4 separate regions of the Homo sapiens genome follow, and regions 1, 2 and 3 are each linked to region 4. Evidence: fine-mapped expression QTL. A gene starts in region 4. Each other region holds a variant in brackets. All regions are shown on one strand. Distances are between the middles of the regions.

Region 1 (5,728 bases), 26 kb before region 4:
CCATAATGTTTCATGATAACAAAATGAATGTAAATGCAAGTCCTAATCAATTTCTTTTCCTACCCAAATGAGTCTTCTCAAGTGCTCCCTGGGGTGCATATCCCACTTTGGAGACCACTTTGCCATGCAGTGACACAGTCGTTCACTTCTAAAAGCCAGTTATAATCACAGAAATCTCTAGAACTAAAATCAGGTGTGAACACAAGGTGTGAACTAAGCCAGGCCAAAGAGATAGTTACTTTATCTTTTTAACTTTTTAAATTATTACTATAACTCATTAACAGGAAAGTAAATTTAAAAATTCATTTATTTTGCCCACGTCACTACCAGCCCCGTCAAAGCACACAATATTGCCAGCACCCTTGGAAGCCCTCCAGGTCCTTTCTCTTTCCTGTCTTAGAGGCAAGCACTATCTTCTTTTTTTTTTCTTTCTTTTTTTTTTGAGACAGAATCTTTGCTCTGTCGCCCAGGCCAGAGTGTAGTGGCGCAATCTCGGCTCACTGCAAGCTCTGCCTCCCGGGTTCACACCATTCTCCCGCCTCAGGTAAGCACTGTCTTGGTATCCGATTCTTTCAGTAATAAGTTCCTTGCTTTTCTTTATTGTTTCAGCCACTTGAATATACACACCTTAGCAACAAAGTTTAGTTTTGTCTGTTTTTTAATAAGACTGCTATGCTCATGGGTAGGAAGAATCAATATCGTGAAAATGGCCATACTGCCCAAGGTAATTTATAGATTCAATGCCATCCCCATCAAGCTACCAATGACTTTCTTCACAGAATTGGAAAAAACTACTTTAAAGTTCACATGAAAACAAAAAAGAGCCTGCATCGCCAAGTCAATCCTAAGCCAAAAGAACAAAGCTGGAGGCATCACGCTATCTAACTTCAAACTATACTACAAGGCTACAGTAACCAAAACAGCATGGTACTGGTACCAAAACAGATATATAGATCAATGGAACAGAACAGAGCCCTCAGAAATAATGCCACATATCTACAACTATCTGATCGTTGACAAACCTGACAAAAACAAGAAATGGGGAAAGGATTCCCTATTTAATAAATGGTGCTGGGAAAACTGGCTAGCCATATGTAGAAAGCTGAAACTGGATCCCTTCCTTACACCTTATACAAAAATCAATTCAAGATGGATTAAAGACTTAAATGTTAGACCTAAAACCATAAAAACCCTAGAAGAAAACCTAGGCAATACCATTCAGGACATAGGCATGGGCAAGGACTTCATGTCTAAAACACCAAAAGCAATGGCAACAAAAGCCAAAATTGACAAATGGGATCTAATTAAACTAAAGAGCTTCTTCTGCACAGCAAAAGAAACTACCATCAGAGTGAACAGGCAACCTACAGAATGGGAGAAAATTTTCGCAACCTACTCATCTGACAAAGGGCTAATATCCAGAATCTACAAAGAACTCAAACAAATTTACAAGAAAAAAACAAACAACCCCATCAAAAAGTGGGTGAAGGATATGAACAGACACTTCTCAAAAGAAGACATTTATGTAGCCAAAATGCTCATCATCATGAAAAAATGCTCATCATCACTGGCCATCAGAGAAATGCAAATCAAAACCATAATGAGATACCATCTCACACCAGTTAGAATGGCGATCATTAAAAAGTCAGGAAACAACAGGTGCTGGAGAGGATGTGGAGAAATAGGAACACTTTTACACTGTTGGTGGGACTATAAACTAGTTCAACCATTGTGGAAGACAGTGTGGCGATTCCTCAGGGATCTAGAACCAGAAATACCACTTGACCCAGCCATCCCATCACTGGGTGTATACCCAAAGGATTATAAATCATGCTGCTATAAAGACACATGCACATGTATGTTTATTGCGGCACTATTCACAATAGCAAAGACTTGGAACCAACCCAAATGTCCAACAATGATAGACTGGATTAAGAAAATGTGGCACATATACACCATGGAATACTATGCAGCCATAAAAAATGATGAGTTCATGTCCTTTGTAGGGACATGGATGAAGCTGGAATCCATCATTCTCAGCAAACTATCGCAAGAACAAAAAACCAAACACTACATGTTCTCACTCATAGGTGGGAATTGAACAATGAGAACACTTGGACACAGGAAGGGGAACATCACACACTGGGGCCCATCATGGGGTGGGGGGAGCGGGGAGGGATAGCATTAGGAGATATACCTAATGTTAAATGACGAGTTAATGGGTGCAGCACACCAACATGGCACATGTATACATATGTAACAAACCTGCACGTTGTGCACATGTACCCTAAAACTTAAAGTAAAATAAAAAATAAAATAAAATAAAAAATAAAAAAAATTTTAAAAAACCCTTGTACCCCAAACTCCCAACTTGATCACTACATATTCTACACATGTAACAAACACTCATATGTAACCCATAAATATATAAAATATCATGTCTCAATAAAATAAAGACAATAATAAAAACCTAAAAAAAAAAAAAGACTGCTATGTAATCTTGTGTCTTTTCTTTCTCTCTCTCTCTTTTTTTTTGAGACAGGGTCTTGTCCTGTCACCCAGGCTGGAGTGCAGTAGTGTGATCTTGGCTCACTGCAGTCTTTCCTTCCTGGGCTCAACTGATCCTCCCACCTCAGCCTCCCAAACAGCTGGGACTACAGGCACACACCACCACACCCAGCTAAGGTGTTTTTTTTTTGTATTTGTAGAAAAGAGATTCACCATGTTGCCCAGGCTGGTCTTGAACTCCTGGGCTCAAACAACCCCCCAGCCTTGGCCTCCCAAAGGGCTGGTATTACAGGCATGAGCTAACAAACCCAGGCCATATCTGTCTTTCAACATCATGTCTGTGGGATATATCCATGTTATTGTGTACAGCTCTAGTTCATTTTTTTACTGCTGTATAGTATTCTAGCATATGATTACACCACAATTTATTAATCTATTCTCCTACTGATAGAGAATATTTTACACATCTCTGGATGCATATAATATATATTTCTCTAGAATACATAGATACATACATACACACACACACACACACACACA[G/CACACAG]GCAGCTAACTTAGTTTTTTTTTTTCAAAAAAAAAATATAATGAATTCCAGTAATTCATTCTTTGGGCAATGAATTAAGAAATCATAATTAACTAACTCTTATGAAGCTATGAAGAAAGTTCATTAAATTACTAGATTTATTCTCTCAGTAGACTTTCACTCCTACACATTCACTAAATCTAAGCCATGATAATAAATGCATTTTACTGTATTAAAAAATAGTTTGGGCCAGGCATGGTGGCTCACACCTGTAATCCCACCACTGTGGGAGACCAAGGTGGGAGGATCGCTTAAGCCCAGCAGTTTGAGACCAGCCTGGGTAACAAAGTGAGACCCCCTATCTCTATAAAAAATAAAAAAAATAGCCAGTTGTGGTGGCATGCACCTGTGGTCCCAGCTACACCAGAGGCTTAGGCAAGAGAACTGTGTTAGCCCAGGAGGTTGAACTTTTAGTGAGCTGTGTTGGCGCCACTGCACTCCAACCCAGGTGACAGAGTGAGACCCTGTCTCTCTAAAAAAAAAAAGCTTGAAGATTTCCAGTAAACTTACTAAAGCTGATTCTTCCAAATCTCTCTCTTTCCTCTCTGTCTCTCCCTCTCCCTCTCCCTCTCTCTCTCTCACACACACACATTTTACATATTGTAATAAAATTTTTCCTCTTAATGAGGGCTAATATTGTGCATACCAAGAGAACAAAATGTTCATTCAAATTTTAAAGCAATTTTGCACCAAAAGGGTTCCAAGTTCAATACTGATCAAGCCTGGAAAGCCAAAAAATGTTATTTCTGTAGCCAAACTAAGGAGTACAAGCACAAATAACAGAGATTGATTCCAAATTCAGAGTCTCCAGTGTTTTCATTACCATCATAAATGTTCTCCAAGTGGACCGTAGAAATGGGACATACTTAGATGACAATACTGTGGTACGAGCAAAATCTGCCTCTGGTCGACCACTGTCTTACCAATAACAACAAAATAACTAACATTTTTTATTGTGCCAGGACTTTCCACATATCAACCTACCTATACTTTCCATATATGGGCTTGTTTAATCATCATCAAAACAACCCAATGAGGTGAATACTCTCATTTGTCCCATTTTACAAGAAGAAATTGAGGCACAGAGAGGGGGACTAACTTGACCAAGGTCCCACTGCTGTTAAGTAGCTGAGGTGCGACTCAAAATCATTCCTCCTGGAGCCTCGGTCTATATTCCCTACACTACCTTGCAGAATGTTAGTTTTGTTGTTATTGTTGGCACTGTTATTGTTATTTTGATAACAACAAGAATAGTTCCTTGAGATCAGAGCAAAATGTGTGAATCCTAGGGGGAAAAACATCTATGTACATTTATTTTGATCCATGAGAAATTTGTGAAAATGACTGTAACCAAGCAACTCTCTAATTCTGGGAGAACAAATTAAGAAATGAATTAAGGGATTCAGTGGATACCCAAATTAGTCATTAGAACTTGAAGATCTGGAATTCTGGTCTAAATCCAGCTTTGGCACTTGCATCGAAAATAAACATAATCAGATAAGCATCACAGCTCACAATTAAAATGGATTTATATGGCTTATGTGTCCACATGGGACAGGCCTCTTCATAATTGAATTCGGACACCTCTTCAGTTATTGTGGGCTTCATTTACCATCTTCCTAGTCTTTCATAACTGCTGGCAATAGGATTATGCTGAGGGGGAAATCATTTTCAATCACTGATGTCTGCAGTACAAGCATAAAAAGATAAAAGTAAAGCCTTTGAGCTGTAATTAGAAAATTCCTAAAGTGTGCTCATGTGGCATATGGTTTAGACTACTACCAACTGGCAAGACCAGTTACAGAAGGGATGTCTAATGTCACCGTTCTGGGATAAGCAGCCAGTACAAGTAGCGTTCCAACACATGATTAGAGTAATCTTTTGCAGGGTAAAACATTCCTGCTTTCCACCTCTAATATGATTAGTGACAGGCAGCTGGAGGCATCTCATTCTCCTGACAAAAATATGATCAGAATTGTTTTCAATTGGTACATCTTTCCATCAAGCTGTTGCCTTCCAGCAGAATAATCAGAGTTTCTGATTATTTGGTATACGTTTCAAGAAAACAGGAATTGATTGTGCCCTTGCTTGTCTGATGGGTAGAAGGCTGCCAGGATCTACATAGTAACTCTTCAGCTGCCTAACCAAAGGAAAACTAAGCAGTGTGTGCGCCTGTGCATGCAGACATGTGTATGGAGACAGAAAGACAGAAAATCAACAGTTGTTTCTATATTAATTCTCTTTGAACAACTGAAAGTGCTTTCATTGTGATTCAAATATGAGGAAGTAAAATATTCGATTCTATTCATGGAAAACAACCAACTCCCACCAATATTTATGGCTCTTTTCAAAAAGTTACAATCATCTTACCACAAAAGTTTTACATTTATGGAAAAAGAATCAAGTTTATATTAAACATTAATGGAAATATCCAGGAGGCAATAAGACTTCATTAATTTGGACTACCTCAATTTGGAATTTATGATTATTTAACAGGGTCTGGACCAAGGATGATCTTTGGTTACTGTTTTATTGAATATCAATTTTGTGTAAGTTTGCCTTGCATACATGAGCTTGAAAACATCTTGACAATTCTGCAAGATGGGTATAATTACCCCATCTTAAAGAAGAGGAAACCAAG
Region 2 (5,728 bases), 170 kb before region 4:
CTGTCTCAAAAAAAGAAAAAGAAAAAAGAAAAAAAAAAAAGAGATGGGAGCTGAAATCCTGATCAAATTGGACCAACTGGACTTTTCACTCACTGAACCAATAAATTCTTATTGTTGAAGCTAGGCTCAGCTGAGGTTTGTAGTACTTGCAACCAATGTTTCCAACTGCCCAACTGCCACATGGTGTGTCTAAGATGATCAGGGTGCATATCCATCTATTTGTGTAATCTAATTGAAAGGGCATATATATATTTTCCTGAAAGAGTACTTGTCTCAACAGAAACAGTATTTATTGTACACAGCTTTGCACCACAACCTCTAGTCTCTAAAGTTTTTTTTGAAAGCACTAAACAGTACATTCAATAACTAGGTGGGTATCAATAAAAGAAACTAGCCAGGTGTCAAATGCAGCATATTTTAATTTGTTTCAAATAAAGCAATATATGTATATATATTTTTTCAGAAAAACACCAGATGTTAAATTCTACAAAAGCGCATGTGTCCTCAGCAGATCATGTTTGTCTGATTATTAAGAATTCTTTTTTGTAACATTAACTCTCTAAAGACAATCAATGGACTGACATCACTGCTACAACACAGGTTGCTAACTGAGCCTCTGATCTTCAGCCACATCTTGATTTTCCTAATAATGAGTAAATACTGCCTGGCTAAAATGCTGCAAAGTCTTGATGAGAGAAAGCATCAACAGATCAAGCAAAGCCATGAAAATTATGAAGCAAGCTAGAGCTGATTATTAGAATTAGTAAAAATGATTAAGAGAGGATGACACAACCATACGGGATTTGTATATTCTGATTGACACTCTTTTGGCAGCGAATTGGGTCAGCACCTCGGGCAGGGAACCAAAACTGAGTGAAAACTGCTCTTTTTCCTCCTAGCTCAGGCCACCAACGTCACAGCCGGGACTGAGAGAACTGCTGCATCTGTGGAAACTTCTATTCTCGTGGGGCAGAGATTGCACTGTGAAACCCTACCGACACTACCCCGGAAGGGCCTGGCCTCCGAGGTGTCTGCAGCGTGCTGCCTTCGCCGGGGCTTTTCAGAATGGGCCGGGGCCTCGGGGGTCTTCATCCCCAAGGAAGCCTCTTGATTTTTGGCACCGCCTTTGTTTTTGGGCCGGAAGCCGTTGTGCGGCTGTCTTCTGTGTTCGTGGCGGCTGTTGCCCTTTCCCAGTGGCTCGGCTTCATTCCCACTGCCCTGCGACTTGGCAGGCCCATTTAGCCTGTTGTTATGATACTGTGGATTAAATCTCCGTCTTTGGTTAGAAGATCCATTCTACCAAAAAAGAAAAGAGATAAGTATCAGATGCCAGCAAGCCACTGATGACACCAGTAGACATCAGGAAAACCAAATCTCTAAGCCACAGGTAAGCTTTTTTTTTTTTTTTTTTTTTTTATACACCAGAAGAATCAGAAAACATGAAGATGAGGTCAGGCAGATAAAATTATTAATCCTAAAAGAATAGTGGACTGTTTTGTAAATGGAACTGGAAGAAAATGATATTGAAAGAGAGGTTACAGAAGTGTAAGACAGACAATTCAAAAACTGGGTCAAATAAAATTCATAAAGATGCTTAAACTATAGCAGAATAAAACAGAAGCCAGGGGCAGAGTAATGATGATCCTCTACTATGGAGATTTCTGAGACATTCTGTAGAGACTGAGAGGGACAGGAGGCACAGAAATTGTACACAGAAAAAGGGCAGGGTCCCTGGCCAAGACCCACTCTCAAGCCCAAAGTGAGAACTTTACATTCCTGTTTTCCTGCTCAAATATTGCCTTTTCCAAAACCACCCCTGGCCTACCCCACCCCGTATCCTGTACCCATAAAAATCCCAGGCTCCACTGGCACAGAGCAGAGAAGAGGAGAAGCAGCTGCACGTCGGAGACTGCAGTCTGAGTCGGAGAGCAGCAGCTTGACTTTAGCGGGACTGCTTGATGGCAGTACTTCAGGGGAAGAATACGTTCCCACTCCATCCCCATTTTCCAGCTCTCTCCCTCCTGCTGAGAGCCACTTTCAATGGCAATAAAATCCCCCGCGTTTACTATCCTTCAATTTGTTCATATGACCTGATTTTTCATGGATGCTGGACAAGAGCTCAGGATACAGAAAAGTGTCACATTGACCCTCTGCCTTCATGAAAAAGTAGAAGGTCTATTGAGCTGTTAAATACTTAAGCCGTCCTTGGACTGCAAAGCTAAAAGAGCATTGTAACGCATGCCCTCTGGGGCTCCAGGGGTCATGGGTACTACCCTAGGCACTGCTGTGGGACTGCATGGAGTTTTGATCCTGCCGGTGGCCAAAAGTGCTTGCTCTAGCTCCTGCACCTGCTCACCTGCATGCTCTCCCTCCCCCGAGGGGTTCAGAGCTTCAGGCTGAGAAAGTGAGGCACCCCTGTTGCAAGGCCTGTGAAGGGGTCAAGGAAAATTTCCTGTTCAAAACCATGCATAGGAATTCTAATTACGTAAGTGAAGAAAAAGTAAAATTCTGTAACTTTTCTTCTCTAAAGTAGCTTTTCTAATTTATTCCAAAACAAATATCTTTATAGTTCAGAAATATTATCTTGGACAAATATAGGGGTGAAGTGTATCTGGCAGGTCTTGGTGGCATGCAGAAATAAGGTGTATTTTCACAGAGGTAATTCATTGTTTTTCTAAACTTTCTGCAGTTATAAGCAAAGAAAATTTGAAGCCTCTATTAAAAAATCATTCCTTCAACACATCACTGACCAGGAACGTAAATGGATGAGCAGTAAGGACGCAATGGATTAAGCTCCTTTACAAGGGAAAGATTTCTGAACTCCTCAAGGTCAGTAATAGCCAACACTCATTGAGTGCTTACCATGCACTGAATGGGGTTTCTCACCATGCACTACCTCATTTAACATCAGAATCACCCTTTAAGTTAGTTGCTATTATGTGCTTCGTTTTATAGATGAGGATAAGGAGTTTCAGGGACTTGCCCAAGGTCTATCTACAGTTGGGAAATGGTGGAGCTATTCCCGCTTTATATACTATCTCCTGACAAGACTCTTAAGTTGTAACATAAACATAAACCTTTTTTGAAAATCAAACCTCTTAAGAAAACATGAAATTTTATGAGTTACAAATATATAAGGTTCTTCATTTGTGCACTGTGACTGGATGGTATAGGTTTAGGG[C/A]AGACCAACCCCCAATAATTCAGAGCCTAGAGCAAGAGTACAAATGTAGGTCCATACATCTGTTAAAGGAAAATAAATCTTGGGGCCCCCAAATCACTAAGCTGAAGGGAAAAGTCAAGCTGGGAACTGCTTAGGGCAAACCTGGCTCCCATTCTATTCAAAGTCACCCCTCTGCTCACTGAGATAAATGCATATCTGACTGTCTCATTTGGAGAGGCTAATCAGAAACTCAAAAGAATACAACCATCTGTCTTTTATCTGCCTAAGACCTGGAAGCCCCCTCCTCGCTCCCAGTTGTCCGCCTTTGCCTCCAGTAGTCCCACCTTTCTGGACTGAACTGATATTCACCTTACACAAATGGATTGATGTCTCATGTCTCCCTAAAATGTACAAAACCAAGCTGTGCCCCACCACCTTGGGCACATGTCATCAGACCTTCTGAGGCTGTGTCACGGGTGCACGTCCTCAACCTTGGCAAAATAAACTTTCTAAGTTATCTGAGACCTGTCTCAGATTTTTGGGGTTCACACACCATATGTCTGAATACTGTCTTTTCCTATCTCTGGCTCCATCCCACATTGTAAGGGGCCTTGCACACACAAATGTGGACATTCCAGCCTGCACACCTAAGCATCGCCTCCACTCCCACCCTTCCAGCGGATGGGTGTGAAAACTGGCAGTGTTGTTCATCTTCAAGATGATGTATACAGGAAAGTGGTCCAGGCAGATCCTGTGAGCAGGCTTGGGCCCACTTGGGAAGAGTAACCCAGGATCTCGAGTACTGACTGGCAGCATGCTTCAGAACAAAGAGTGTAGATTCCAGTGGCCCTGTCTCCTTGGTCTCTCTGATTCCTTACTCTGTAGAGAGGGCCATGGCTGCGGGAGGGTCAAGAAGTTACTTGAAAACACAGGGCCCGGTCCAAGGGCCATTCTTGCCTGGGTCTACAGTGTTCTGACTTAGATATTTGAGTGGATTTCAACTTAAATGAGCCATTACCTAAACTGCTAAACCAGAGAACTGAAGAAGTATCTACATAGATAGTACTTAATCTGGCCTCCTTTGTTTTTAAAGAAATTATGAAAAAGGGAAACTCTTAGACTAAATTTTAGACTTAATTATCAGCATGGTATTTAATAATGAACAGAGAGGCCAGGCATGGTGGCTCATGCCTGTAATCTCAGCACTTTGGGAGGCTGAAGCAGGTGGATCGCTTGAGCCCAGGAATTTGACAGCAACATGACAAAACCCCATCTCTACAAAAATTATACAAAAAAATTTAGTCAGGCGTGGTGGCACGTGCCTGTAGTCCCAGCTACCCTGCAGGCTGAGCCTGGTGGATTGTTTGAGCCCAGGAGGTTGAGGCTGCAGTGGGCCGAGATTGTGCCAAAAAAAAGAAAAAAAAAAGAACAAAAACTGTGAAGATATATTTAGACTACAAGTAAAAACAGATTTGATTATGATCTTTAACTAATGAGATTATAACATGCTCCTTGTCAAAGTGCTATCTTAAAGCTCATGAAGACTTCAGGGCCTGAGAAAACACCTGTCAATATCATTAATAAGAATTCTCAAAGGCTGAGACAGCAAAACCCAACAAGACACCTGTTAGAAAACCACCATTTTTAAAGTCTTACAAAAAAAAAAAAGAAAAGACTTTTTCTTGGAGATGATAAAAGGTATCTTAGGTATCTTTATAGCATGCCCAACTTCTATATCATCAGATCCTTTATTTTTATTTTTATTTTTTTTTGAGATGGAGTCTCACTCTGTTGCCCAGGCTGAAGGGCAGTGGTGCGATCTTGGCTCACTGAAACCTCCGCCTCCCGGGTTCAAGCAATTCTCCTGCCTCAGCCTCCCGAGTAACTGGGATTACAGGCACCCGCCACCATGCCTGGCTAAATTTTGTGTTTTTAGTAGAGACAGGGTTTCACCATGTTGGTCAGGCTGGTCTCAAACTCCTGACCTCAAGTGATCTGCCCACCTTGGCCTCCCAAAGTGCTGGGATTATAGGAGTGAGCCATTGCATCCGGCAGATCCCAATTTTTTGTTAATTCTCTAAGGATAAGGGGGAAATCACCTCCAAAAGATATAGTGGAGAAGCAGAAGGAGAGAAGGAAGATGGTTCTTTGGACACTTGTGTCTTTAGACATCATAATAGATAAGAATGAAGAATGCCATTTTGAAATGTATTCTCCTTACTGAAATCCCAAGAGAAGAGAAGACTGCACTAACTTTAGCCTCTTATTGATCAGCTAAACATAAATGGGGATTAAAATATCTTAAAAAACAAATGCCAGATTTCCTCTCATTAGTAGTTTAGTAGGTTCCGAGTCTTGTTCCAGAGTCTCTGTGGGTCCCTTCCACGTGTGGGCTGGTTTCGGGGCCCCAGGGATGGTGGCAGTCCTAGCCATGAGAAGAACTGTGTCACTGGGGTGGACTCTGCTCACGTGGTCAAGAGTGCATGCAGGCCACTTCCTCCACATGGGAAAGCACCTGGCAGGCATGGATGAGAGCGACCAGGGGAGTTCCCAAGAGGCCAGCTGGGC
Region 3 (5,728 bases), 150 kb before region 4:
ATCTGAAATGCTAAGTTCTGAATGTTTTTGCTTTTCAACAGTGATCCTGAGTACTTGACAGAAATACATAACTCTTTAATTGGCTTTCCACTGGCCACTAAAAGTTTTCTAAATGGTTGGGTAAAGCCCTCTGGAGGGCACCAGGCACGTCAAACGTGTTCTACATAAACAGAGTTCCCGTAAAATCCACGCGGACCTCACATGTTTCAGATGTGCCCTTTCTCCTTCTAAAAACACATCTTCTCATTTTAGCCAAACTGCCTGGATAGTAAAATTTTATTTTGTTGCCATAAAAAAGCTTTTATTATCAAAGCAATAAGGTGTAAGGAGGAGATTACCATGGCAAAGACTTTACAGTTTATTATATAGTTAATCACAGAGATAAAGTGTCATTTTATAAAAATGTTTCCACTGTCTTGATTCCTTTCTATAGAGCACTGATAATAACAATAATGAAAAGAATCAGAAAGCCTCGTTAGTAGTAATAGATTTATCATTTTCTCCCCTGTGAAAGGCTCTTTAAATTTGGAGATGGAGGCATTGAGTGACAAAATTGATTCATTTGGAAGCTTGGGTGAGTCATGTCAGGCCTAGTGTTCTTCAAATACAAAGATGCCACCATAGAGAGGCAGCCACAGGACCATCAATGTAGTTGATAAGCTGGAGAGCAGAACCTGCTGGTAGATACCGAGGAATGAAAGCAGAATTTCAAAGGGGAGGTGAAGAACTCAATCTGTAACAACAGCCAGAGTTAGATGTTAAAGATTTAAAACCAGGCCACATTCCATCTTCCATGCATTTGCCTCAGGGAGACTAGAGTGAGAGGAATTGCCGGGGACCATCTGATCCCAGACAATTTTGCTGCAGAACCTTCTTGTGGGGAAAGTACTTCAGCTGGAGCTTAACTCATCATTCGCCAAGCCAACAATTGCAGAATGGGAGCATGGGGAGGGAGGCAGGCCCAGCAGGAGGCGCATGCAGTAGAAAGAGAAGGTGGGAACTGCTGGAGAGAAAGGATGCTATGAATGCTAATGAATATTTCAGCCTTCCTGGCCTCTACCAAATAGCATAAAGCATGCCAAAGACTGATAAGCCCTACAGCCAGGCTTCCCTGCATAAAGAATTTCCATTTCTTTCACTAAAAAGAAAAGAGTGGTATAAAAACATCTCCCTCCACTGTGGGCTCTGCCGCTTCTTAATGCAAAGGAATAAGAACTGTGACCAACGGTTCTAACATCCCCTGAGAGGGATGTCAGCTGGGCTGATAGCCTAGTAGTGCCCACTGACCACCACGTGGGCCTTGAGCTGGCAAGCTACAGTTGCCCCGTACTAGCTAGCACTGAGCATCTGTGTCCCTTCCCTTAAATTTTGCCCACTAGTTGCAAGGCAGGAAAACTTCCTTTATACATTTAAGGCCTAATGTACTGTTCCCATGAGTACCATTTCTGGTCCAACTCCCCAAGTATTACCAGCAATTATTGGGCCCAGGGCAAAGCTAGTCAGGGGTTTCAGCTCACCAATTTCTCAATTGCAATTTCTCAATTTCTTTGTTGCAGCTGTCAACAAAGATGCTTCCCTGGCTTGACAGCCACAAATGCAGAAAGACCGTACGGTTCTTTATTCCCAGGGTCAGGAGGCCTGGCAGCCCTAACTGTAAAGGGCACTCACGTTCTTGCACACTGCCAATTCCCGGCTCTTCCTTGCTGTTCTGCTCCCCATCCTGTCCTCTCTCCTGCACCCTCTATGCTGGTTACTGGTGTCATCTCTCACCCAGTGTCCATGGCTCCTCTTCCTTCACTTCCCACATGGTTACATCCTTGGAAGTCTACCCCAGAAATGTCTGTCTGTCCCATGCACCTCTCCACTTCCACTGACTCTTATTTAACCCTGAGCACATTACCCAGTCCTTGGCTATTTGTTGTTGTTTATTGTTACACTGCTGGAATTCCCGGGTCTGTCACCTTCCACTCTGTATATATTTGCATTTAGGTTTTATAACAACCTGAATTCTTTTCAAAACTGAAAAATAATAATAGATTTTTTTTTTTTTAAATGCAGCACTGGTGACAAATTGGTCCTTCTAAAGATTTATTGGGTTTAACAGTGTTATTTGGTAAACATATAAAACCCTGCATACATGTCCACAGCATGTAGACTGGGGTTAGCACATAACCCTTTGAAAGGCTGCCTACTAATCACGCTCATCCGGGAAATAGAGTGGGGGTGCCTCAAGCATGAACCACACTCAACATACAAAGCAAAGTCAAAATCCATCTGACTGTCAATGAACATCAATGACTACACTCAATTGCCAATCAGGCTGACATTTTATTTCTACTACTTTTATGAGAGGCAATACAATGTGTTAATATTGTTTAGTCTGCATATTTTATGTTGGAATCATACAATGATTTGAAATCATGGTTAATAAATTGTTCATCATACTGTCTGAGGTGCATTTCTGGGATGAGACACACAGATTTAGTATAAGGACTAACTCTCAACATTAGTAATATTTTGGAGTTCTTCAAAAAGGACATAATTAATTAAAAAATATACAGGGATTTCTTTTTCTTATTGGAATTTTTTAAATGACAGAATAGCATAATCCCATAGTATGGAAATCCCACAACATTAAATGTTCAACTGAAAAATCTATATTCCTCTGTTTAGAAATTGTACATATGACTTTGATGAACAATAGAAATTTTTATCTTTGCTAATTACTTATTAGTTCAGTTTCTTTTCATGGAGGTCACTATTCAGGGAAAGTAACTTGACTGTATTTCAGTGTCTTTGACTATAAAAATGCTGACTCCCCCGCTTCCCCTTTTAAAGTTACATCTGCCGGGCGTGGTGGCTCATGCCTATAATCCCAGCACTTTGGGAGGGCGAGGCAGGCAGATCACCTCAGGTCAGGAGTTCAAGACCAGCCTGGCCAACATGGTGAAACCCCATCTCTACTAAAAAACTGGAAAATATTAGAAAGCAGGATAAAATGAAACAAATTTCAAAATAAAACAAAATAAAGCAAAATGCCCCTTTGTCTCAAGCACAAAATAGAGCCAATCACTCTGATCACTGTTGTATTTCCTTCCAAAAAAAGAAAA[G/AG]AAAAAAGAAAACGGTGGGGGCAAGGGGAAGGGCATTTATGTAGATGCCATCATGGTTGCTGAACATAAATAACAGGAACAGAAACTGGAAGAAACTGATATAGTACAAGAAGTGCCAGAAATGCTGGCCCACATTCAACCCAAGGCAGCCAGGCCTAGCCTCCTCTGCTCCTGGCCTCCAGGCAGGCTCTCATGTGAAAAGGGGAGGGGAGGGGCTCTTCTTGTTTTTGGCCTAGAAGGCTCTTCCCCACAATCACAGGTGTTGTTATTGCCCATGGTAAGGCCGTACCCTAGTCCAGGCTTCCAAAATGGAGCAGGAATACAATATTAAATTTTATGTACTCACTTGTTATTCTAAGTAGGCTTTCCTCATCTTTAGTATACAGATTAACAGTAGTACACATGTATAATTTATAAATGAACTTTCTGATTTGAGAGGGATGTGCTTAAAATTCATTTATTGATGGAGTGAGACCATCATCATTAGTTATATTAACTTTCTTTTTGAGACAGGGTCTGGCTCTGTTGCCCAGGTTGGGGTGCAGCGGTGTGGGTGTGATGTTGGCTCCCTGCAAACTCCGCCTCCTGGGCTCAGGCGATCCTTCCACCTCAGCCTCCAGAGTAGCTGGGACTGGAGATCTACACCACCATACCCAGCTAATTTTTATATTTTTTTGGTAGAGACAGGGTTTTTCCATGTTGTCCAGGTTGGTCTTGAACTCCTGGCCTCAAGCAATCCTCCTACCTTGGCCTCCCAAAGTGCTGGAATAACAGGTGTGAGCCACCGTGCCCATCATTATTGATGGAAGAAGGGTACTTCTCCCTGAGCACATATGTTCTTTCTTGCCTCTGGTTCTTTGTGTTGCTTCTTCTGCATGGAATCTTCTTTCTTCCTTCTCCATCTGGCAAATTTCTAGTCTTCCTTCAAGATCCTGCTCAAAGGTCACCTCTGCAATGGAACCTTTCCTAATGAGCCAGGTAGAGTTGATTTTTCCTCCCCCCAGCTCCATTCCAGCTTGTTTACATCTGCAGCCACTAGTGCATGGGCTTTTTTAGGAGGAAGACTGTCTTTATCCCTCAGTCTTTCTAGAAGTGCTCCTTCAAGTGTGGTCTGCAGACCACCTACATTTGTACTCACTAGACTCACTGAGTGGAAGATTCTTGGGTGCCACCTAACATCCACAGAATCAGAATATCTGGAAATGGGGCCCTGATGCTCCTCGTGCACTCAAATGTTTGAAAAGTAGTGGCTTGACACACATTCATCTATCTATTAAGTGGATGAATGAAGAAAGGGGAAGAGAGAGGTAGCGAAGGCATGGCAAGACAAGAAAGGGGAAGGGGAGCTGTTTTGGTGGCAACTGTGACATTCAGAAGTGGGTGTCCCTTTGCCTTACTTCTCTCTTCATCAAGTAATAAAAAGTAGAAGTGGTGATGAACCATTCCTATCCCATAGCTGGACTCCACTGCATGCTAAATAAACAGAAAGTTGGAAGGGATAACTTATTGCCAGTGTCTTGGTGTAGAGGAAAAGAAATTTCCCAAATGCTACTCTGGAAGAGAATCAACCTTAACTGAACATCTCTTATGGGCCAGGCTAGTGATTTTCTAGAATGATGTGACAGATACATTACTTATATATGAATTTTCACAAAACCCCTAGAAAGTGATAACAGTATTCCTGCTTTGTAGCTGAGAAGGAGTTAAAAAACTCAACCAGGTTCAGAGCTAGAATATGTAGAGATGAGATTTAAACCTTAATCTATCTAACTCCACATCCCGTGCCTCCTAATTAAGTGGTTAATAAACCTTGGAAAATGCGTCTTTCATTAGAATATGGCCTGGTAAGAATCAAGAGTTTAGAGTCACTAGAAGCAGCATGTAGTATACATATAAGGAGTTCTATTTTATTGGCTTCACGTACAGCCTTTCTATATGATTTGTTGCTGACTTAGCTGACAAACTGCCCAAAATAACTCCTTAGTCTCACTGTACCAGTCCAAAAAAACAGAAATAAGCTCCAAGATGCATTCTGAAATTGTAATTTAGGACTCACTTTTTAGTATTATAATGTATTTTATATTTATACTAAGATATAAGAACAAATTCATCTTCTTTTTTCTAGTGAAAATAGACTATATTGCATATATATTTTTTAAAAGACCATACTCTAGTATCCTATGGGAATGTGTAGATAGAACAATTTGCTTATTTCCTCTTTATTTTTCTATTTTATGATGAAAACAATTCCTTTTCAGAAGTACATTCCCGGGCTGGTTGATTGGTAAGCTTTCATCTGCTGAGAAGATTCAGAAATCTTTTCCGATTTCAGGCTGAAATTAGAACCAATTTCTTGTCTTCCAGCTCTTATTGTGGGCCTTTATTCTGCAAAGAAGGCTGCAGTGCCAGCGGAGCTGACTGCCAGTGCCAAGTGTGTGACTGACATAACGTATGGAGGTAATCCACACGTGTAGCTCAGGAAGGCTATTAATAAGAGGTGCTATTTATGCTGGTTTCCTGGGGACTATACCTAAACTGAAAAGGCCAGTTCAGTACTTTTTGTATTTATCAACCTGCTCTTCCTTCATGTCAACTGATTCATTCAGTCCTTGCAAAGG
Region 4 (5,728 bases):
AGGTAGTAGCAGCTTAGATCTTACGAAGAGCAACCACAACTTTTTCCATCCTATCCAAACTGTAACCAGAAGTTCTTGTCCTGGCTCACCTCAGAAAATGCTGATTAAAACTGTGTAAAGTAATAGAATGAAGACCACCTATGCCCTTTCAACACACAACCATTCACGAACATTCACTGTGATTGATAACACAACTCTGATCGCAGACTGAGAAACTCACAAAAATTAGGCCCCAAAGTGAGATATTTCTAAAGCTTAACTTCTGATGTAAAAGCTTACCACTTACATGGCAAAACGGGTCCATAAAATGCTTCAGACTGGCATGCAATCAAAGACTGCAACGGTGTGGCCTAAGTATTTTCTTTCCCTGATCCTTACTGGTGTGGCAGAGCAGCTTCTCAAGCCCACAGATAACTCTCTCCACAATGGCCTCAGGAAAATCAGTGCATGCAGAAAAACTATTTACTGAAGACTTTCATTAGGGGGCTCCCTAAAACAAAATGAATACAAAAGGAGTCTTGATCATTTTGCCTGTCTAAATGAGCACATTAAACTAAGTTGATTCTTAGAAAATCATTTAATATTTTCAGGGATTAAAGAAAGAAAATTGCCAATTAATACAGTCTTTTCCCAGATGTTCAGTTTTTACTAACGTCTTTAGCTATTCTCTGCATTCAAGTGATTGTATTTTTATGCAAATTATCTTTTGGGGCTAGTCTCTAGTTTGTGTGTCTGTGTGTGTGTGTGTGTGTATTTAAAGCCACACAGATACAGAATTTGACATGTTTTCTGCCACACAGATACAGATTTGACATGTTTTCTGTTCTGCTGCTCCATACAATAGGTTTTAACACAGCTTGAGCTTATTCCAAAACTCTAATTAGAAACTGCAGTATTTGCCTTGTCCAAATAGAAACCCATTCCCAAAGTTGATTTTTCCCCAGTTAAAATTCAACAAAGAATATCATACACAGATATTTTTAAACACGACAGTTACTAGATAAAACTGCCCTATCTAACAACACATTGCTTTCTGGTTAAGCAACACAATTTCATAAGGCCTATCAAATACTTTATCCAGACGGCCACTCTATTTTCAGGGTATTGGTTGTATTATTTGAAGTCTTTTTTTTTTTTCAGAGTGAAGAGATTTCTGACTTCCTGTCCTCTTCCCTGCTATATTACATACATCTGCTTAAACTCTGGAAAACAGTACCAGTCAAAGTGGTGCTGAAACCTTCCTTTAAGACAAACTAAAACGATGTTAAAAAGGTTACACGACCTTACTATTTCAAGTACTGGTATAAAACCACTTTCTCTGCACAGGTTCTAAAATTTCACAGTCGTTTGTCTTAAAGTCTGTCGGCTTGTGAGGGGGCTGGTACATATTTTAATATTTAAATTTCAAAAAATAAGCAATGAGACTGTGTTTGAAGTTCAAGGGTTTTCACTAGTTCTCAAGCTACAAACCCTGTAATATAGCCAAAAGAAAACGTACAGAAAGAATCTTTCACGAAAAGTGTCAGGTCTCCAAAACCCCGACATCTGCTAAAACCAGGATTGCGGGGGGGATGAGAAGCTCGTGAAGTTCAAAAACACACCAACCCCGCGGGAACACGAAACCTCCACTCGCGAAGACGCGACGCTTCCGCCGCATCCCCGCGCAGGTGAAGACTCGGCCCTTCAGCCCCGCGTGTGCGGCAGCATGATATTCAGAGTGCGCCGGCGTCCAGCGCGAGCGCATCCTACGACAACCCCGTCTCCCGCTGGGGTCCGCAGCCCGCGGACTCCGGGGTCCCCCCGCCCAAATGCGGCGGCGCGACCGCTTCGTCCCGCGGCCAGGGCGCTCCGCGTCTGCTCCGGCCACCCCAGCCCACCCGCGCAGCGCGGACGCCAACGCATCCCACTCCCGCTGGGCGCCAGGGGCGCGGGGTTCAGTGGGGCCGCGGCCCCCGCACCCGGCTGGGATCCGAGGGCGGGGTGGTCGCGGCTGACGTGGGCTTTGCGGCTCCGGGCCAGAGAGCAGCCTGGGGGACGGTGGGTCTCTTTCCGGCTTGGGAGGGAACGGGGGCGCCCGCGCGGGAGGACGGCAGGCGAGGGACGGCGGCCGCGGGCGATTCAGATCCGGGGCGGGCGGGTACACGTCGGAGCGCGGCGGCCACACGCTCGCCCGGGGAGCGCCACTGTGCGTCCCAGCCGGCGCCTCCTCCCGCTTGCCCGCGCCGGCTGGAGAAAGGAAGGACGGCGACCTTCGCGTCCGGTCCGCGCCACCAGCCCGCCTCGGCGCCGAGCGCGGGCCACACCCAGCGCTCCGGGAGGCGGCGGAGGCTGGGCGGCCCGGGCTGCGGAATGCTCGGCCCAGCCGAGTCTCCGTCCCGGCCGCGCAGGCCCCTCCGCGTCCGCCCGCGCCCTGCATCCCCAGCCGGCCCGGCGTGGAGGGGGTCCTGGGCTTACCTCTGTGTCGAGCGCCGGCTCCTCCGTCCCGGGCCGGAGCCGGGGCCCGGGGGCGCGGTCGCCAGGGGAGGCGCCGCGGCGGTGGCGGCCCCTGCGGCTCGGAGGGCGGGCCGAGCGGGAGCCGCTGCCTGGGCCGCGCGCCGTCCGGAGCTCGCCCCGCGCTGCCGGCGCTTGCAGCGGAGGGCGCAGCCAGCTCGGCCCCCGGACTGGATTCCTTCACTGACACAACTCCGGCTCGGCCGCCCCACGCAGGGACACTCCCGCCCCTCGCAGGCTGCCCCCGCCCGCCGACCCGCCCGCCTTCCCCTCGGTGTCACTCACCAGGAGCACACACCCCAGCCGGCGCCCCTCGCTCCCGCTCGCAAACACAGCGCTGCTCACGCCTCTCTCGGGTTTTGTATCCGCTCACACGCACGTTCTGACACAGATCTCGTCCCTCCACACGCCCTCCCTAGCTCCTTTCCCACCCCACTTTCTAGAAGAATCCCAGTACAGCTTCCGCACTTTGCTTGCTTGCTCCAGACCGACTTCCTCGCCTTTCCCCAAACCTCCACTTCACCGAAACTCCCCTTGTTAATGAAAGATTTTGTCACAATCCGCACGTGTTGCAAGAGAATCATCTTCTCCTACCCGAGAAAATGAACTTTGCTCCCTCAGCACTGTCTGCAAATACGAGATGTTTTTCCTTTTAGAAGGTAGTAATGCTTTCTGGAGAGGATCCAAGCTCAAAATGTAAGCAAAGATAGCCCATTCGAAAATGACCTGAAAAATCAGGCGCGGAAAAAGTGCTGGAGCTCGGGTCAGCCCTTGGAAACCCGACCAACCCGGGGTGTTCCGCCGCCTCCTCTGCGCTGCGGGTCTGCACACTGGGCTCCAAACGTGTGTGTAATAACCAAGTTACACATGGGCATCGTGGGCTTCAGCCGTGGGTTTCTGCCTGGGAGTACAGTAGTCGGGAGAGTAAAAGCAGTTTCTCAATCATTATTCATGATGGAAGCACTTTAGATAACACTCTTCTTCCAGAGGCAGTAGAGTGAAATGCAGGCAGCTCTCCAATTCAGGTTTTTATTTATTTATTTATTTATTTATTTATTTAGAAGGGTGACTTCTTAGCTTCCTTTTTTTTTTTTTTTTTTGGCAATACCAATAACTGTTTCTGAGTGGCTCCTTGGCTGTCAAGCTCCTTACAAATATCAGACCAGAGTTTGTTATGCTTCTCGAGCTCCAGACTCTAATGGGCCTCCGAGGGCACTGCAGAATCGTACATAATCCGATGTTCAGGAATTCATAATTTGAAATAAAATACAAACACCTTTCGGATAAAGTTCAAATCTGCTAACATAATGTGGCCCTGTTGACAACGCACTGCTGAAATAAAGAGAGGAGCTAAAACGAAAGGAATTCATTTTCTTATGTGACTTGGAGTGGTTCTTGCTACCTTATAGTCGCCTTGGATTGGTGTGTGGATAATATAATTTATTTAACAGACATTAGCAAGTGCTTTATAAGTACTAGCTCATTTAATCCTTGGAAGAACCCCATCAGGTAGGTACTACTTTTGTCCTGTTTTACAGATAAACTGAGGGCTGGGCCCAGTGGCTCACACCTGTAATCCCAACACTTTCGGAGACCGAGGTGGGCAAATCTCTTGAGCCCTGGAGATCAAGACCAGCCTGGGCAACATAGTGAAACTCCATCCCTCCAAAACAAAAAAACTAATAATAATAATTGGCCGGGCATGGTGGTGCACGCCTGTAGTCCCAGCTACTCAGGAGGCTGAGGTGGGAGGATTACCTGAACCAGGTAGGCTAAGGTTGCAGTGAGCCAGGATCACACCCCTGCGCTCTAGTGTGGGCAACAGAGCCAGAGCCTTTAAAAGAAAAGAAAGAAAGAAACTGAGGCACAGAGAGGTGAAATAAGTTGCCTAAGTTTTTAGCTAGTAAGTGGTAAAGGAAGAATTTGAACCTAGACCGTTGGACCCTGCCTGTGCTACAGAGAGGAAAGCTTGCTTCTAGAAGCCATACCACACATAAAGAACAAACATCCTATTGCTTATTAAATTTAGGTGTAATAAGTAACTTGTAGCCATTTGACTTGAAATTTGATGCACTTCTTAGGTCCTCTGGCTAAATAATTTATTTATGTTTTTGGGAGGTTTCCTCCATAATTAGAATTCCAAAATGAATAATAAACAACACTTTTCCTAGGAAGGGCTTTGGAAATAACATTGAACTCAGTCTTCATTCTTTTCTTCCACCACTTCATAATCTTCCCATGACTCCAAATCTAACTTGCTTAGTGAAGTCCGACAGAAAAAAATGCCTTCAAGAACAGAATATGACCAGAGGGAAGAAAGGGTTTTAAGAAGACCATATACCGCCTTTCTAATCGAAGGCTGCTTCTTTTAGTAAGTACTGTAGGTAGGAGCTATAAGAATAAATGCTGTATGTGTTGAGAGCAAAGATGTTAAAGCAGTGAATCAATGAAAAAATAGAGACTAGGCAGGTAGGAGTAGCCACTGTACCACAGACTAGGCTAAAACTAATTCTCTACTGTGAGTGGAGGCCTAGCGCGTGAAAAGACAAGTATAGAATAACTTCGAAGAAAACAATTGTATATTTCAAGAGTTAGCTAAGGGGCCCAGCACCCCCCCAAAAAAATCAGAGTTTTAAAAGTTTTAGAGACAGTGAATTTCAAATCAAACTTGAACCTTTTGCTGTTCAAATTAATTTCTTCTGGAAATAATGAAAACTTCTGTTTCTGTTAGAGAGGATTTAATATGCTTATTGAAACATGTAAAAGCTTCTTGCACATCATATAACTAACAAAGCATTATTTTTCTGAATTAGGCATAAATGATTTTTAAAATATGCATTATATTCCTATTATTATAGGGAGATAGAAAAGTCTGAAGAAACAAAATATGAATAAGATATATGTTGATGTTTTCACCAGATGGTCAAAGTTTATTTGAAAAATTACATTGTTTGAAATCTTGATCTGTGTAATGCTAGTTTGACAGTATTGTTCAAAATGATTCTCTGTGATTACAATTCAGAGATTGAATTGCATTTTACTATTTTCTAAACTAAATAGAAATGTGAAGATCTTTTCTTAAGCAAACAAAACAAGAACCATAAGAGCAGATGTTTTCTGAGGGATGAACAAAGTATGTTCGTTTATATTTTTTAACATTTACGTGTAGGTATTTTTAATCTGTGCGTACTGCTTTCCTCCACATTGTCACCTACACTCTTTATTCAGGGTGCTTAAT

Which allele goes with the higher level. Positions count from the first base shown, and alleles are read on the strand shown. Sizes are in standard deviations (SD) of each study's normalised expression. Not every link is listed here.
For the expression in lymphoblastoid cells of the gene that starts at base 2,684 in region 4, G is the high allele of the variant in region 3 and AG is the other (moderate effect, 0.51 SD a copy in TwinsUK).

The links.
Region 1: its variant is fine-mapped to the expression of SPATS2L in whole blood (INTERVAL, PIP above 0.99).
Region 2: its variant is fine-mapped to the expression of SPATS2L in whole blood (TOPMed, PIP above 0.99).
Region 3: its variant is fine-mapped to the expression of SPATS2L in lymphoblastoid cells (TwinsUK, PIP 0.95).

The regions. Positions count from the first base shown.
Region 1 is chr2:200,330,093-200,335,820 of GRCh38, reverse strand. The region is part of intron 2 of SPATS2L (spermatogenesis associated serine rich 2 like); the gene reads right to left. Among named protein-coding and RNA genes, the nearest start is that of SPATS2L, 26 kb to the right of the region's middle. The variant G/CACACAG (reference allele first, on the strand shown) is at 3,049.
Region 2 is chr2:200,473,204-200,478,931 of GRCh38, reverse strand. It overlaps SPATS2L (spermatogenesis associated serine rich 2 like), which reads right to left. Exons shown (of 13, transcript NM_001100423.2): 13 at 1-1,296. The coding sequence ends at 901. LOC101927741 (a long non-coding RNA gene) reads left to right here and starts at 959. Exons shown (of 7, transcript XR_007088047.1): 1 at 959-1,387; 2 at 2,690-2,829. RefSeq lists an enhancer at 5,685-5,728. The variant C/A (reference allele first, on the strand shown) is at 3,182.
Region 3 is chr2:200,449,215-200,454,942 of GRCh38, reverse strand. The region is part of intron 8 of SPATS2L (spermatogenesis associated serine rich 2 like); the gene reads right to left. It overlaps LOC101927741 (a long non-coding RNA gene), which reads left to right. Exons shown (of 7, transcript XR_007088047.1): 3 at 5,475-5,567. Among named protein-coding and RNA genes, the nearest start is that of KCTD18, 58 kb to the left of the region's middle. The variant G/AG (reference allele first, on the strand shown) is at 3,111.
Region 4 is chr2:200,303,649-200,309,376 of GRCh38, reverse strand. SPATS2L (spermatogenesis associated serine rich 2 like) reads right to left here and starts at 2,684. Exons shown (of 13, transcript NM_001100423.2): 1 at 2,455-2,684. RefSeq lists silencers at 1,720-2,049, 2,070-2,799 and an enhancer at 3,210-3,309.